Linked DNA regions of Homo sapiens: region 2 is reported to be linked to region 1. The links are microRNA targets in miRTarBase. Many come from high-throughput screens and were not tested one by one. Region 1 holds a microRNA gene; the other region holds the end of a gene's coding sequence.

Evidence for each region. The annotated mature microRNA hsa-miR-1323 reads UCAAAACUGAGGGGCAUUUUCU and lies in region 1 at 5,055-5,076, opposite strand. An mRNA with a match to its seed (bases 2 to 7 or 8) in the 3' UTR can be bound and repressed. Matches are read on the target gene's strand: a 7mer-m8 pairs with bases 2 to 8, a 7mer-A1 pairs with bases 2 to 7 and ends in A, and an 8mer does both.
Region 2: miRTarBase lists OTUD7A as a target of hsa-miR-1323. Seed matches in the 3' UTR shown: 7mer-A1 at 1,986-1,992 and 7mer-m8 at 2,458-2,464.

What each region holds. Positions count from the first base shown.
Region 1 is chr19:53,669,932-53,677,053 of GRCh38, reverse strand. MIR1323 (microRNA 1323) reads right to left here and starts at 5,086; the gene lies at 5,014-5,086. It overlaps MIR498 (microRNA 498), which reads right to left and starts at 2,857; the gene lies at 2,734-2,857. It overlaps MIR520E (microRNA 520e), which reads right to left and starts at 1,343; the gene lies at 1,257-1,343. The region is part of intron 2 of LOC107985342 (a long non-coding RNA gene); the gene reads right to left. RefSeq lists an enhancer at 7,010-7,122.
Region 2 is chr15:31,476,972-31,484,078 of GRCh38, reverse strand. It overlaps OTUD7A (OTU deubiquitinase 7A), which reads left to right. Exons shown (of 13, transcript NM_001382637.1): 13 at 1-7,107. The coding sequence ends at 785. Among named protein-coding and RNA genes, the nearest start is that of KLF13, 150 kb to the right of the region's middle.

The DNA.
Region 1 (7,122 bases):
CACAGCAAACATTTTAGATCTTGCCAAGCAACCTGTATTCAGAGGCGAGGTTTTGCCTGTTGGAATGGTACATTGGAACCGCTACCCACAGGAAACAGGATAAATGGTCCAGCTGTAGTCAAAAGAACTCACTAGGGTTGTTGGCATTAGTGGTTGAGGGTTGAATCAACTATAAGCTTCTCACAGAGGAAGCAGGTCTATTCTGAGAAATGATGGTAAGCTGTTAGGAAGGAAAAATTTTCAGTGTCAGGGACAAGTAGATTAAAATAAAAAGACAAATGAACAGGAAAAAAAAAATCCCCATTGGGGACTGCAGAACAAGACTGGACAGGCCGGGCGTGGTGGCTCTCGTCTGTAATCCCGGCACTTTGGGAGGCTGAGGTGGGTGGATCACGGAGGTCAGGAGTTCGAGACCAGCCTGACCGACATGGTGAAACCCCATCTCTAGTAAAAACACAAAAATTAGCTGGTCATGGTGGCAGGCGCCTGTCATTCTAGCTACTTGGGAGGCTGAGGTGAGAGAACTCCTTGAACTCAGGAGGCAGAGGTTGCAGTGAGCTGAGATTGCACCATTGCACTCTAGCCTGAGTGACAAGAGCCAAGCTCTGTCTCAAAAAGACTGGATAGACTTGGAGGCTTATTTACTCTCTTAATGAAGGAAACATGGTTTGGATTCATTAAACTAAATTTATAGGAGGCCATTGTTTGACCAACACAAATGGTGTCTCTGGAACCAGGTGCCATGTAATGTATTTTTTTTTAAGAGATGGGATCTTGCTATGTTGGCCCAGGCTGGAGTGCAGTGGCTATTCAAAGGTGTCATTAGTGCACGGTATAGCATTGAAATCAAGAGACTCTCCCACCCCAGCCTCTGCAGTAGCTGGGGCTGTGTGTCCCACTATGCTTGATCATGTCAACTATCTTTAAAATGGGCACGGTGGCTCACACCTGTAGGATTGCTTGAGCTCAGGAGTTGAGACCATCCTGGCCAGGGTGAGGCCCCATCTCTACAAAAAATTGAAAAATCTACCAAATATGGCGGCACACCCCTATATTATAGTCCCAGCTACTCGGCAGGCTGAGGCATAGAGGACCAGTTCATCCCAGGAGTTCTAGGTTGGAAGGGCAACTGCATTCCAGCCTGGGTGGAGACCCTCATCTTGGAGTAAAAACAAAACCTCACATCACCCAAGTCTGATTATAAGTATACTCTGCAGGTGTGTTACAAACATCAGCATCAACCTCAAGGTTGCTTTTCTCAAACAGTAACCCTCAAAAAGGAAGCACTTTCTTTCCTTTCAGACAACAGAAACTGCTTCCATCTTGAGGGTCACAGCAGGAGACAGTCTTGCTCCAGCACTCTGGGTGTTTATTGGTTTCCTTGGATTCTAAAACCTTGACCAGGCTGAAATGAACACAAAAATAAAGATACAGCCAAACATTCATTTGCCCTGTTTGCATGTGTTCTGGAATCCCAAATTATAAGCCCATTAAATGAACATCTCGGGTTCCTTGCGTGAAAATCTCAACAGGTTGCCCTTATGAATCAAGAAGCAATCCTCCTGAGTTTTGTCCCCCGAAAGAAAAAGCAGCGACTACTATACATACCTTAAATTTAACCAAGAGAACTGGCTAGATTTATAGAGAACAGCAATGAATTTTGAGCCAAGTGTTCACCTAAGTTCCAGTACACCTAAGTTCCAGTCCTGATGGGAGGATCCAAAATGGAATCTGAGCTGTTTAAGAATATATATTGTCAGTCAGGCGTGGTGGTGCACACCTGTAATCCCAGCTACTCGGGAGGCCGAGGCAGGAGAATTGCTTGAACCCAGGAGGCAGAGGTTGCAGTGAGCCGAGATCATGCCATTGCACTCCAGCTTGGGCCACAAGAGTGAATCTCCGTCTCAAAAAAAAAAAAGTACAAAAATTAGGAATATACATGGTCAGCCTGGGCAGGGTAGCTCACGCCTGTAATCTCAGCACTTTGAGAGGCCGAGGCGGGACTCCTGAGGTCAGGAGTTCAAGACCACCTTGGTCAATATGGCGAAACCCCACCTCTACTAAAAATACAAAAATTAGCCGGGTGTGGTGGAGGGTAATCCCGGCTACTCGGGAGGCTGAGGCAGGAAAATCGCTTGAACCCGGGAGGCGGAGGTTGCAGTGAGCTGAGATTCATGCCACTGTACTCCAGCTAGGGCAACAAGAGTGAAACTCCATCTCAAAAAAAAGAAAAAAAAAAAAAAATATATATATATATATATATATACACATTGTCATGCACACAAATATTCTCCAGGATAGACCACAGGCTAGGCCATAAAACCTCAACAGAATTTAAAGAGAAATATACAAGTATGAGTAGGGAGTGGTGGCTGACACCTGTAATTCCAGCACTTTGGGAGGCTGAGGCAGGAGGATGCTTGAGCCCCGGAGGTTGAGAGGCTGCAGTGAGCTGTGAACATGACACTGCACACCAGTCTAGGCAAGAGTGAGACCGCATCTCTATTTGTATTAAATAAGCTATATTAAAAAAAAATTACACTCCTGAAGACCTTTCAGGCAGGGAAATTCTCAGGCAATTTACTCACTGTAGCTTCATGAAATTACCAAGACGCTTATGACTATTTCCGTTAAAATGAATTTTCTAAGTACATTTCCTGGATCAACAGCATCCAGAAGTAAACACAGGAATCTGATTTCATGCTTGTTTAAAAAACTATTAACATTGCCATCAACTTCCTTAGACGATTGCTCTCAAACTGTGAGCTTCAAGCTCTGGAGGTGCTTTTCATCCAGTTATAGAAAAACGCCCCCTGGCTTGAAATCACAGCCTGAGCTTCACTTCCCAAGGAGGGTTTGGGGCTTGAGCATTCTCAGGGTCCATCTGAAATCAGAGTGCAAACAAAAGGCATCCCAGAGCAGTCCACTCTCAATAATAAGCAGAATTAGGCAGAAGTAAGTAGAAGTTTCAAATAAGTTTGCAAACCAACTCAATGGACATCTACTGAACCCTCCCCAACATTCAAATGCACACATAGCATAGGACGGGACAGACGTTATGAGACACATAATACACGAGGCATACAATGGAGAAGGACCAAAGTACATTATGTTCAATCACCACCATAAAATGCAATTAGAAATCATTGTTGAAGACAGGCACGGTGGCTCACGCCTCTTATCCCAGCACTTTGCGAGGCGGAGGTGGGCAGACCACCTGAGGTCAGGAGTTCGAGACCAGCCTGGCCAACATGGTGAAACCCTGTCTCTACTAAAAATACAAAAATTAGCTGGGTGTAGTGGCGGGCGCCTGTAATCCCAGCTACTGGGGATGCTGAGGCAGGAGAATTGCTTGAACCCGGGAGGCAGAGGTCGCAGTGAGGCAAGATCACACTACTGCACTACAGCATGGGTGACAGAGAGAGACTCCATCTCAAAAAAAAAAAACTCTCAAATGGTCAGGCAGGATGGCTCAAGCCTGTAGTCCCAGCACTTTGGAAGGTGGAGGCAGGAGGATTGCTTGAGTCCAGGAGTTTGAGACCAACCTGGGCAACATAGTGAGACCCTGTCTAAATACATAGAGAGATAGGCAGGAAACATGGTGAAACTCCATTTCTACTAAAAATACAAAAAATTGGCCAGGGGCAGTGACTCAAGCCTGTAATCCCAGCACTTTGGGAGGCCGAGGCAGGCAGATCACGAGATCAGGAGACCGAGACCACCCTGGCTAACACAGTGAAACCCCGTCTCTACTAAAAATACAAAAAAATTAGCTGGGCGTGGTGGCGGGCACCTGTAGTCCCAGCTAGTCGGGAGGCTGAGGCAGGAGAATGGCATGAATCAAGGAGGCGGAGCTTGCAGTGATCCGAGATCACACCACTGCACTCCAGCCTGGGCAACAGAGCAAGACTCCATCTCAAAAAATAAAAAAAATAAAAAAATAAAAAAAAATTAGCCGGGCATGGTGGTGCACACCTGTAATCCCAGCTACTTGGGAGGCTGAGGCAGGAGAATCACTTGAACCCAGGAGGCAGAGGTTGCAGTGAGCCGAGATTGTGCCACTGCACTCCAGTTTAGGCAACAAGAGCGAAACCCTGTCTCAAAAAAAAAAAAAGAAAGAAAAAAAGAAAATGCTTAGACATTTACATTGAGACTAAGAAAAATGGCTCCCCAGATCCCAACCCAGGTCTATGGCACCAAACAAAATCTGTGGGTGGGCCCCAACAAGCTGCTTCAGCCAAGCTTCTGGGTTTTTGTCATAAATTTAAGAACCTCTGGGAATGGGGGCACGTGCATCTGTAATACCAGCTACTTGGAGGCTGAGGCAGGATGATCACTTGAGCCCAGGAGGTTGAGACTGCAGTGAGCTATAGTCGCACCATTGTACTCAAGGCTGGAAGACAGAACCCCTGGTCCATGATATCCTGGGTAGAAACCAGGACATCTACTAAATAGATGGACTGGTATGGGGGGCAGAAGGGAAAGGAAACCTTCACAGGAAGCACTTTTTTTTTTTTTTGAGTCTCGCTCTGTCACCCAGGTTGCAGTACAGTGCCATTATCTTGGCTCACTGCAACCTCTGCCTCCTGGGTTCAAGCGATGCTCCTGTCTGCACCTCCCAAGTAGCTGGGATTACAGGCACATGCCACCATGTCCAGCTAATTTTTGTATTTTTAGTAGAGACAGGGTTTCAAGTGCCTCGCCTGCCTCCCAAAGTGCTGGGACTACAGGCGCGAGCCACCCCACCCGCCTTAGGAAGCACATACTAAGGAGCCAAGTTAACTGCAATTCCTGGGGTCTCAGAACAATGTTGCATAACAGACATTTTTGCTTTGCATTAGAGGGATTTTTGCCTAGGAGAGCGCTTAGAAAATGGAATGCATTCAACGTGAGAAAGCTGATTGCAGTGGAGAGAAAAAGAAACAATAGAAAAGCAAAGGCCAGTCCACTGGGTGCATCCATGTGGTGCAATGCGATGGGGGACTGGGGATGGGTTATGATGAGGATTCACAATTGACATCCCCAAAACTGGGTGCACTTTCCTTTCAAACCACAGAAAATGCCCCTCAGTTTTGAGGACCTCAGTCTGAATGTCATGTCTGACTTCAAACTCTTCCTACGTGGTTAACTCACACTAGGGTTCGCTGTCCTCACACTGCAGATGGAGGACGTTCACACAGCACTCATGCAGAAGCTCCCAGCCAGATCTTGAAAAAAAATAACCTCAAAGAATCCTCAGGCTGCCCAGGGAGTTGCTAGGAAAAGGCAGACACACCAGCATTTACACAAATTCAGTTACATCACTAGTGGTAGGTTTCACATAAAAACCTTTGATTTATGAGAAGGCTATGCACATGTTACACATCCAGTCAGAACCAATCATGCACTCTAATCATACACTTTAATTTCAAATTTTTTTTTTTTTTTGAGACAGAGTTTCACTCTTGTTGCCCAGGCTGGAGTGCAGCGGTGCGATCTCAGCTCACTGCAACCTCTGCACCCCATGTTCAAGCCATTCTCCTCGTCTACTCAGTCTCCTGAGTAGCTGGGACTTCAGGGGCCCGCCACTATGCCAGGCTAATTTTTGTATTTTTAGTGGAGATGGGGTTTCACCATATTGGCCAGGCTGCTCTCGAACTCCTGACCTTGTGATCCGCCCGCCTCAGCCTCCCAAAGTGCTAGAATTACAGGCAGGAGCCACGGCACCCGGCCGTTTTTGGTTTTAAATTTCTCAGCATTACCTGTGAAAGAATCCAAGTGTACATTTCCACAGTCCTGTCTATGAACACAGAAGAAGGAGTGATTGGCAGCAAACTGATGCTTCAATGCCATGATAGGAGCAAGTGGGCTTCAAAACTATCCTAATACCTGTCCTTTTTTTTTTTGAGACAGAGTCTCGCTCTGTCGCCCAGGGTGAAGTGCAGTGGCACGATCTCGGCTCACTACAAGCTCCGCCTCCTGGGTTCATGCCATTCTCCTGCCTCAGCCTCCCCAGCAGCTGGGACTACAGGCGCCTGCCACCACGCCCGGCTAATTTTTTTGTATTTTTTTAGTAGAGACGGGGTTTCACCGTGTTAGCCAGGATGATCCACCCGCCTCAGCCTCCCAAAGTGCTGGGATTACAGGCGTGAGCCACCACGCCCGACCAATATCTGTCTTCTTGATGCAAATCCAAGTTTAGCATCCTCATTTGGGCATTCATTTGTTAATCTATTCTGCAGTCTTCTGATCTACCTCTTATGCTACTCTTCTTTGCAATTTTACTGTAAGGCAAGAAATTCCTAGTCTTCAGTAACCTGGAGTTAAGATACCAGTCCCCATCAGTTACAATCAAGGACTCACCTCAGCACTGAAAATGCCTGGGTCCCACACGTCACAGGCAATGTGCCAGTATGTTCTTATCAGACTCCAGAAAGCACTCCCAGATTGCATGTCACCAAGGAGACAGTGATCACAAGCCCCAGGGAAAACCTGCAAGGTAGCATAGAACCCATGTCCCTCCACAGGCAGTCCTCCTACAGCTCAACAGAAGACAGTGTTGGAATGTGTTGAATTCTGACATTCTGTTCTACCACCTCACGGGGACAGCGCCTGTAAAAGCCTTTGGGAGAGTGTGGCTGGGAAATGGGCACATTACTTCTCAGTGCACATCCAGCAAGTGATCCTCCATGTGTCAAAAAATCTTATGCTTGCTGGGCGCGGTGGCTCACACCTGTAATCCCAGCACTTTGGGAGACTGAGGTGGGAGGATCAACTGAGGTCAGGAGTTTAAGACCAGCCTGGCCAGCATGGTGGCACCCCATCTCCACTAAAAACACAAAACATAAGCCAGGCACGGCTGTAATCTCAGCTACTTGGGCGGCTGATGCAGGAGAATTGCTTGAACCCGGGAGGCAGAGGTTGCAGTGAGCTGAGATCACTGCACTGCACTCCAGGCTGGGCAATAGAGTGGGATCCTGTCTCAAAAAAAAAAAAAGAAAAATAAGGCCGGGCGCGGTGGCTCACGCCTGTAATCCCAGCACTTTGGGAATCCGAGGCGGGCAGATCACAAGGTCGGGAGTTTGAGACCAGCCTGGCCAACATAGTGAAACTCTGTCTCTACTAAAAATGCAGAAAACAGGC
Region 2 (7,107 bases), not on the chromosome of region 1:
GCGCCGAGCAGGAGCAGCGGCGCCGCGACGCCGCTACTGCGGCCGCCGCTGCCGCCGCCGCCGCCGCCGCCACGGCCAAGCGGCCGCCGCGCAGACCGGAGACGGAGGGCGTGCCGGTCCCGGAGCGCGCCTCTCCGGGCCCACCCACGCAGCTGGTGCTCAAGCTCAAGGAGCGGCCGAGCCCCGGGCCCGCGGCAGGGCGTGCGGCGCGGGCGGCGGCGGGCGGCACGGCCTCCCCGGGGGGAGGCGCGCGGCGTGCGAGCGCCAGCGGACCAGTGCCTGGCCGCAGCCCCCCGGCGCCAGCGCGCCAGAGCGTCATCCACGTGCAGGCGTCGGGCGCGCGGGACGAGGCGTGCGCGCCGGCCGTGGGGGCGCTGCGGCCGTGCGCCACGTACCCGCAGCAGAACCGCTCGCTGTCGTCGCAGAGCTACAGCCCGGCGCGCGCCGCCGCCCTGCGCACCGTCAACACGGTCGAGTCGCTGGCGCGCGCGGTGCCCGGGGCCCTACCGGGCGCGGCGGGGACGGCGGGGGCGGCCGAGCACAAGTCGCAGACCTACACCAACGGCTTCGGCGCCCTGCGCGACGGCCTGGAGTTCGCCGACGCCGACGCGCCGACCGCGCGCTCGAACGGTGAGTGCGGCCGTGGCGGCCCGGGGCCGGTGCAGCGGCGCTGCCAGCGCGAGAACTGTGCGTTCTACGGGCGCGCCGAGACCGAGCACTACTGCTCCTACTGCTACCGCGAGGAGCTGCGGCGGCGGCGCGAGGCGCGCGGGGCCCGGCCCTGAGCGGCGCGGCGCGGCGCGGGCGGCGAGGTTCTACCTTCGAGGATTTCTTTTCCATTGTGTCGGTGTCTTTTTTACATGCCCTGGTCCACCGGAAGGCCGGCGCCTCCTCTGTCAGTGCCGTGTACGTGTTTGGTCAAACGTTCCTAATGGTGCCTGAACCTACACTGACGCCACTCAGGTAGTAGACGGATAGGAAACAAGTCATACTGTTGGAAGTGGGTGTGCTAGCCTAGCATCTGCCTCGTACCTGTGGAAACTCAATAGCCATTGCAAGAGTATTTTTGTTCCTCAGTAAGAGAAATAAAGAAATTCGCAGCCCTTTGTTTTAAGAAGGGAGTGTTTTACATGCTTTTTTTGCTTTTTTTTTTTTCTCCTACCCTAGCGATGACCTCTTCCAGGTAGCGGTCCCTTGTGCGCGGTTGGTAGTACCCAGGGCTTAGAGCGAGCGCGCACCCGGGGCTGCGGTGGAGGCTCCTCTGTGAGCTCTACCTGCCTCCCATCCCGAGGCCTAGGAGAAGGCGGGTACCTGGCCGCCAGCTGACGCCCTGGTGGTCACTGTGGCCCTTTAGAAACACACAGCTCCATTTCATAAGCAAAACCTCCTCCCCCAGCCCCGGCTCAAGCACCATTCACACTGCCATCCAAGCCGCGGGCGGCCGTGGAAAGGGCACTGGACCACCCGTCTCGCGGGCGCCGTGAGGTACAGCGATGGCTCCCAGTGCCGGGCAGTTCAGGTGACAGGAGCTTTCCAAAGACACCTAGGGTCCAAAAAGCAGGGTTCCCATCTCACAATTTGGATTTGCTCATAGAGGAGCAGATAGGACAGGCTGCTCACATTTCTCCTTTGAAGGCACTTCCACAGTGGACTGTCGCTGGCGGGCCCCTGGGCGGTGACCATCGGTGCCCCGGGAGACAGCGAGGAATTGACCCTTTGGTCACTGTGTAAGCCCCCACTAGGCTGCTGCTCTTTCCAAAGGGAAGGGGCTGGGGGAACCAGGAAGGAAGCCCACCCCCACACCTGCATCTGTCTGGGTTCAGCCAGGTAAAGGGACTCACTGTGATCGTGGCCCCTCCACGGGGCAGGACGACCCTGCCTCCGTCTCGTGACACAATGAGGGAGCAGCCCGATCCCTGAGCGGTCTCTTTTTTGGTGCCTCCTACATTTCTTGAGGAAAAAAAAAATGTGTCCTTAGCTACCCTGTTTTGAGCAGCAATATGCAGCCTCTTCCTTCCAAGATTACCTCCGGAGAACACCGTTCTTGGCCAAGGACACTGAGGAGCTAAATCTGCCTCACTAAGGAACGAGCTTGTTTCCAAGAAATGAGGATAAGATGGGTAAAATCCTCACTAACAAAGAATACTATAAAACCTGTGAGAGCCTTAGAATAGCTTCTAATAATCCTAGGACAGGAGAAAGCGCCTGGCTTTGCTGTGAGTGTATCCTCAGAAAAAGCAGGAGGTCGACCATCTCTTCACTGGAGCCAGCTTCTCCTCTAGAAACGATGCTTTTTTCCCTAACTAAAGAGCAGCAAAAACAAAAAAAAAGGGGGGGCGAGGGGATTTTTTTTACTTGTTTGAGAAATTATAATAAAATAATTGAGTATCTCCTGTGAGTAATGCCTTTTTGTTTTTAATTATTCCACAGCAGGTGGAGTTTTCAGTAATTTGTTCAAGTTTTGCATAAGTGGTTCCTTAAATCAAAAATTATTTATTAAATAGGATCTTTAAGAAATTTTTTGAAAGTTTTACTTTTCCTGCTGAACAATATTTTCAATGTGTGGTAATTACTGTACTAACATCCATGTCCCTAATATTACTGGGGTTTCTTTTATTACTCAGAAAACAAAAGTGGTTTTTTAAAAATCTCATGGAGAGGGTCTGTGGCAGCTTTCTGGACTGATTCTTCGTGTCACGCTGAGCAGCTGCTTTGGCATCCAAAGCTGTGGGATCACAGAAAGTGTTGCTTCAGGTGTGGATGCCAGCCACTCCTCATGCTCGTCACTCTTAAAAGATTGAGACACCCAACCTTAAAAATGCTCCAATAATCCATTCAGAAACCAAACTCATATGCACAAGATGTCAAGGAGGCATAAAGTCAATTCTTGCTTGTTTTTTTCATTTCTTAATGTAAAAACAGCCAACCAGAAATTTCTAAAACTGGCTATGCTAATTCAGATATTTTCTTTCTCACGCTATCTGCCAGGTTTGTCTAATTTAAAAAATAAAAAAATAAAACAGAATAAAAACCGTCCATTGTAATAGAGGAAAACCTTCCAAACCAGGCAGAGTACGTAATTATCAAAACACCAGGACCTATTCTACCCTTGCATTTCCAAGTTACCTCCACCCATCACCATCTGATGACAGATGTGCCCTAAATAAGAGCCTGAGATAAAGCCACTGGCTGCATCCTGCACCCCAGCTTCTCAATGTGGTAACGAGGCGCCAGACGCCTGTAGACACCTGCTCCAGGCTGATACATTACCACTCAGTCCACATGACTTAGGAATAGCCATTTCCTTTTGTGAGAGAGCTGGATCCATCCTTCCTCTAAACAGTATTAAAAATGCAAAAGGGAGAGAGCGGATGGTCATATTAAATGTGCTAGTCCCGTGCACCGACAGCATGCTCCTTGAGAAGAGGCGTGTAGACCTCGTCCCTGGCCAGAGACCAACTTCAGCAGGCTGGCCAGAAACTATTAAAAACTGTGTTGACTGCATGTGGGCCAAGGGCTTCCCTCGTGTTCCATGGCGTGAGGGCCCTTTGTGGAGCAGGGAGAAAGGGAAGAAGGTGAGTCCTACCGGGGTGCATGGCCCTGCTGCCCTAGCTGACCCTGCCTGAGAGCAGCCTTCCCCACCTGATCTGGCCACACTTCCCTTTCTAGGAAGGACAGGTGTCTCCAAGGGACTGCAGGTTTCCAGAGGATCCCAGATACTTCTAAACCCCTGCGAAGGTTATTTCAGAAATTTACTTTACATTTCCTGCACATTTGTTATCTGGGTAAATGATTTTTTTAAAATATTGTTAAGGGAAGGTGTTTTTCAGTGTATTCTGTTGGTAGACTTTATGCTGTGTTACGTTGAAATTTTACAAGCCAAGTTTAAACTGTACTATAAAAATTATTTTTGTATTATTTTCAGAACATGCCACAGAGCAATATTTTGCACCCGTTATTGCCACAGGGTTGTCCCTTGGAAGGGTAACTGGAGGTGGGAAGGAGCTCCACTGTGGGCTCCGGGGGGTTAAACGCTTTTTGCTGCTTGTTCAAATACCTTCTGAAAGTGGGAATGTATCAGTGTCTTTTTTTATTGAAAGCTTGATTTCCTTTTTTCTGTTCATGGATTTTGGTACTGCACCTTTCCTCTTAAATGAATACTTTGTATTCACTAAATTACTGTGGACCTTTTCATACCTATTACCACCCAGTGGCATTTGAATCTATTTACAAATCGAATGTTTTCCCAAATGATTTAATTTACTACTTCTCGTAGCTTACTGTCAAGAATTGGGGGTGCTGAAGATAAAAGGACTCTCCATGCCCCCCAGGTGCACACCTCAGGGTGTGGACATCCTCCATGCAGAGCCCGCCCTGTCTCTGGGGAGGGGTCATGGGCCCATCACCCCCCCCCCCCACTTAGTGTCCACAAACTTATTTTGCGAACTATTCTACTTTGCAAAAATAAACTTAAAATATACTTCCCATTGGTTAAGATAAAAGGGCTGTACTTATCAGTGGTGGGAAATTTGTACAAGAAAAAACAGACTTTTCCAAATCCATGTGTGTAAGTTCCATTCCATGTGAGTCTTTTATTTACGAAGAGACCTGGAGTAAAAGCTGAAGGCATCTACTGTATGTTTGGGGCTCCTTTCTTTATGGCCATGATTTTTTTTCTCCTCATCTTGGTGTGGACTTTAAAATTAAGTACCCCCAGTGTTCTGTCCTTTTTCTTTCCTCAGTGCTTCTAATAGATAAGAAGAAATGTGTTTCTGTGGCTGAGCAAGCCCTGCTGGGCCAGACAGACCTTACCAGCCCTGGCTTCATCCTCGCTGGGCTGCAGAGGCGGCCCCTGCTCTAGTTGAGTCCGGTTCTGCTGCCAGCTGAGGACAGACACACCGTATGAAGGGCCTAGAGGTGGCTGGCATGCCAGGGAGCAGGTGGCCCCTTCCAAAACGCCTTAAAGTGGTGGCTCTCTAGAGATCTGAGGCACCACCTTCCCATTTACTCCTGACTCTAAACTCTAGCTGGCCTGTTTTAGTGTGGCTGGCCGGGGCAGTGACCAGCGCTCAGCTTTGTTCTTGTTTAATTCAAGTCCACCCTGTTGCCCGTGTCCTCTCCACAGCTCTGGGTCTGTTGGCCCGGAGTGTATTTCTGCCAGTGCTGCCTCACTGACTCGGGAGTGGGTCCTGGGTAGTTCACGATAGAGAGGCCAGCACACGCCATGGGGAGAGCCCCCCACGCTCACCCCAGGAGGCCCTGCGGCACATCCAGGCTGGACCACTCTGCAAGCTTCTGTCACAAAAGACAGCTCCGGGCACTGTGCAAATTGGCCTGTTAGCAGTTATGCAGGTCCCTTCTTTGCCAAAAGATCTATTATTCCTCCCCACTGCACCCCCAGCAGAAAAGAGCGAGGGAGATGCCCTGCAGGGACCCCTTGGGAACAACAGTTATGTGCAGTCTGTGCAGTATGAAGAACTTGGCCCCACCAGGCTGAGCCGAAGACACACGTAGTTGCAGAGTAGCACTGAAGCCATCATCTCCAACCATGCTAGTAATGTTACTGTTTCTATTTATTTTGCCAAATGATTTGTTGAAAATTGCATTTTTGCTATTTTAATCTTGCCAAAAAAGGGGGCCTCACTAATCCTAATTATGTACATACAGAATGATGCACATTGCTTGCATCTTTTTATTCCTCCCAAAGAGCATATCAAGGATATATATATACATAATTTGTTAGTTTAACATAAGGCGAAGAGTACCATTTGGTTTTAAGAGTAAATATAGGCTGAATTTATTCAAGACCAAAGCAACCTATTTAATGAGGACAAATGAGTGAAACCAGCTGTTTTAGAATTTATCTGCAGACACTGGAGTGCTCCTTTAAACGAAGAAACAGCCTCCCATGGCAGAGGAAAAGCCAGGTCCTTACAAAGGCCTCTCCCATCCCAGTACTTCTTCTGCCTGCTGCTCTGCCCTGGGACGTAGGCCTTCCTGCCGTTTCTAGTCACAGGCACCCTCCTGCCTCAGGGCCTTTGCACATGCCATTCCTTCTACCTGAACATTCTTCCCCAGAGAGCCACATGGTTCACCCCTCACTACCTGCCAGTCTTTGCTCCAATGTCACCTTTCAACGAGGCCTTCCCTGACTTATTTAAAAGGACAACACACCCCACCCTCCCTCCCTACCCACCTCTCTGCATCTTCTTCTTGTGCACCTATCACCATCTGAGTGCTGCAGATGTTAATCATTCATCCATTTATTTGATTCTCGCCTCCCCATCTCCCATAGACTGTAAGCTCCATGTGGGCAGGAACTTTTATATGTCTTGCTCATTGCTGTATCCTGGTGCCTACAACAGTGCCTGACACATATTAGGCACTGGATAAGTATTTATTGAAAAAAGGAAATTAAATCAGTAAATTGAAAACTATTAAGAGGCCAGAAAATGTCAATTTCAGCTTTCATCAAATCTAGGTTCTATTATTGTGAGAACTTTAGCTGACCCAGTGACCTGGCTCCTATGGGTACAAGATGGTTAGATACACCGGGCAGCAGCGGTGGCTTCTGTTCACAGACAAGTGAATGCCTGCCCTGCCGCTAGCCCCACCTCACAAATATGAGGCTCACTGTTCGCAGGGGAGCATTTTGGAACCAGCTGGGATGAAGACAGTTTTCTGCAGGTAGCTTTTGTAGCCAGATGCACAGTAGTGGGTTCCCATCACTCCATGAGGTCACTGTAGACCTGGACCATTCCAGAGAATCCTTTGTAATCAGTCTTTAGGTGTCTCCCAGTCCTTCCCAGTTCAACACGGGTGGCAGCAGATGGCCCAGCCCAGGGAAAGTCCACCTGACCATTAGAAGGACTCATCCTCCAGCCACCAAAGCAAGGCTGCAGAGGAAGAGGAGCTTGTCACAAACATTAACCGGCTCAGGGCTGGGTAACTGCATTGACAAATTTGGAAGCAGCAGGGCCAGAGAGCCAAGGCCCCCGGGTATCCCCATTGGCCACTGGTGGAGGTGCACTGGAAGGTCAGGGCCTTGACACCACAGAGCCAAGCAACACACACCTCCTTGGGCCCAGGCCCCAGCACGGTGGCCCT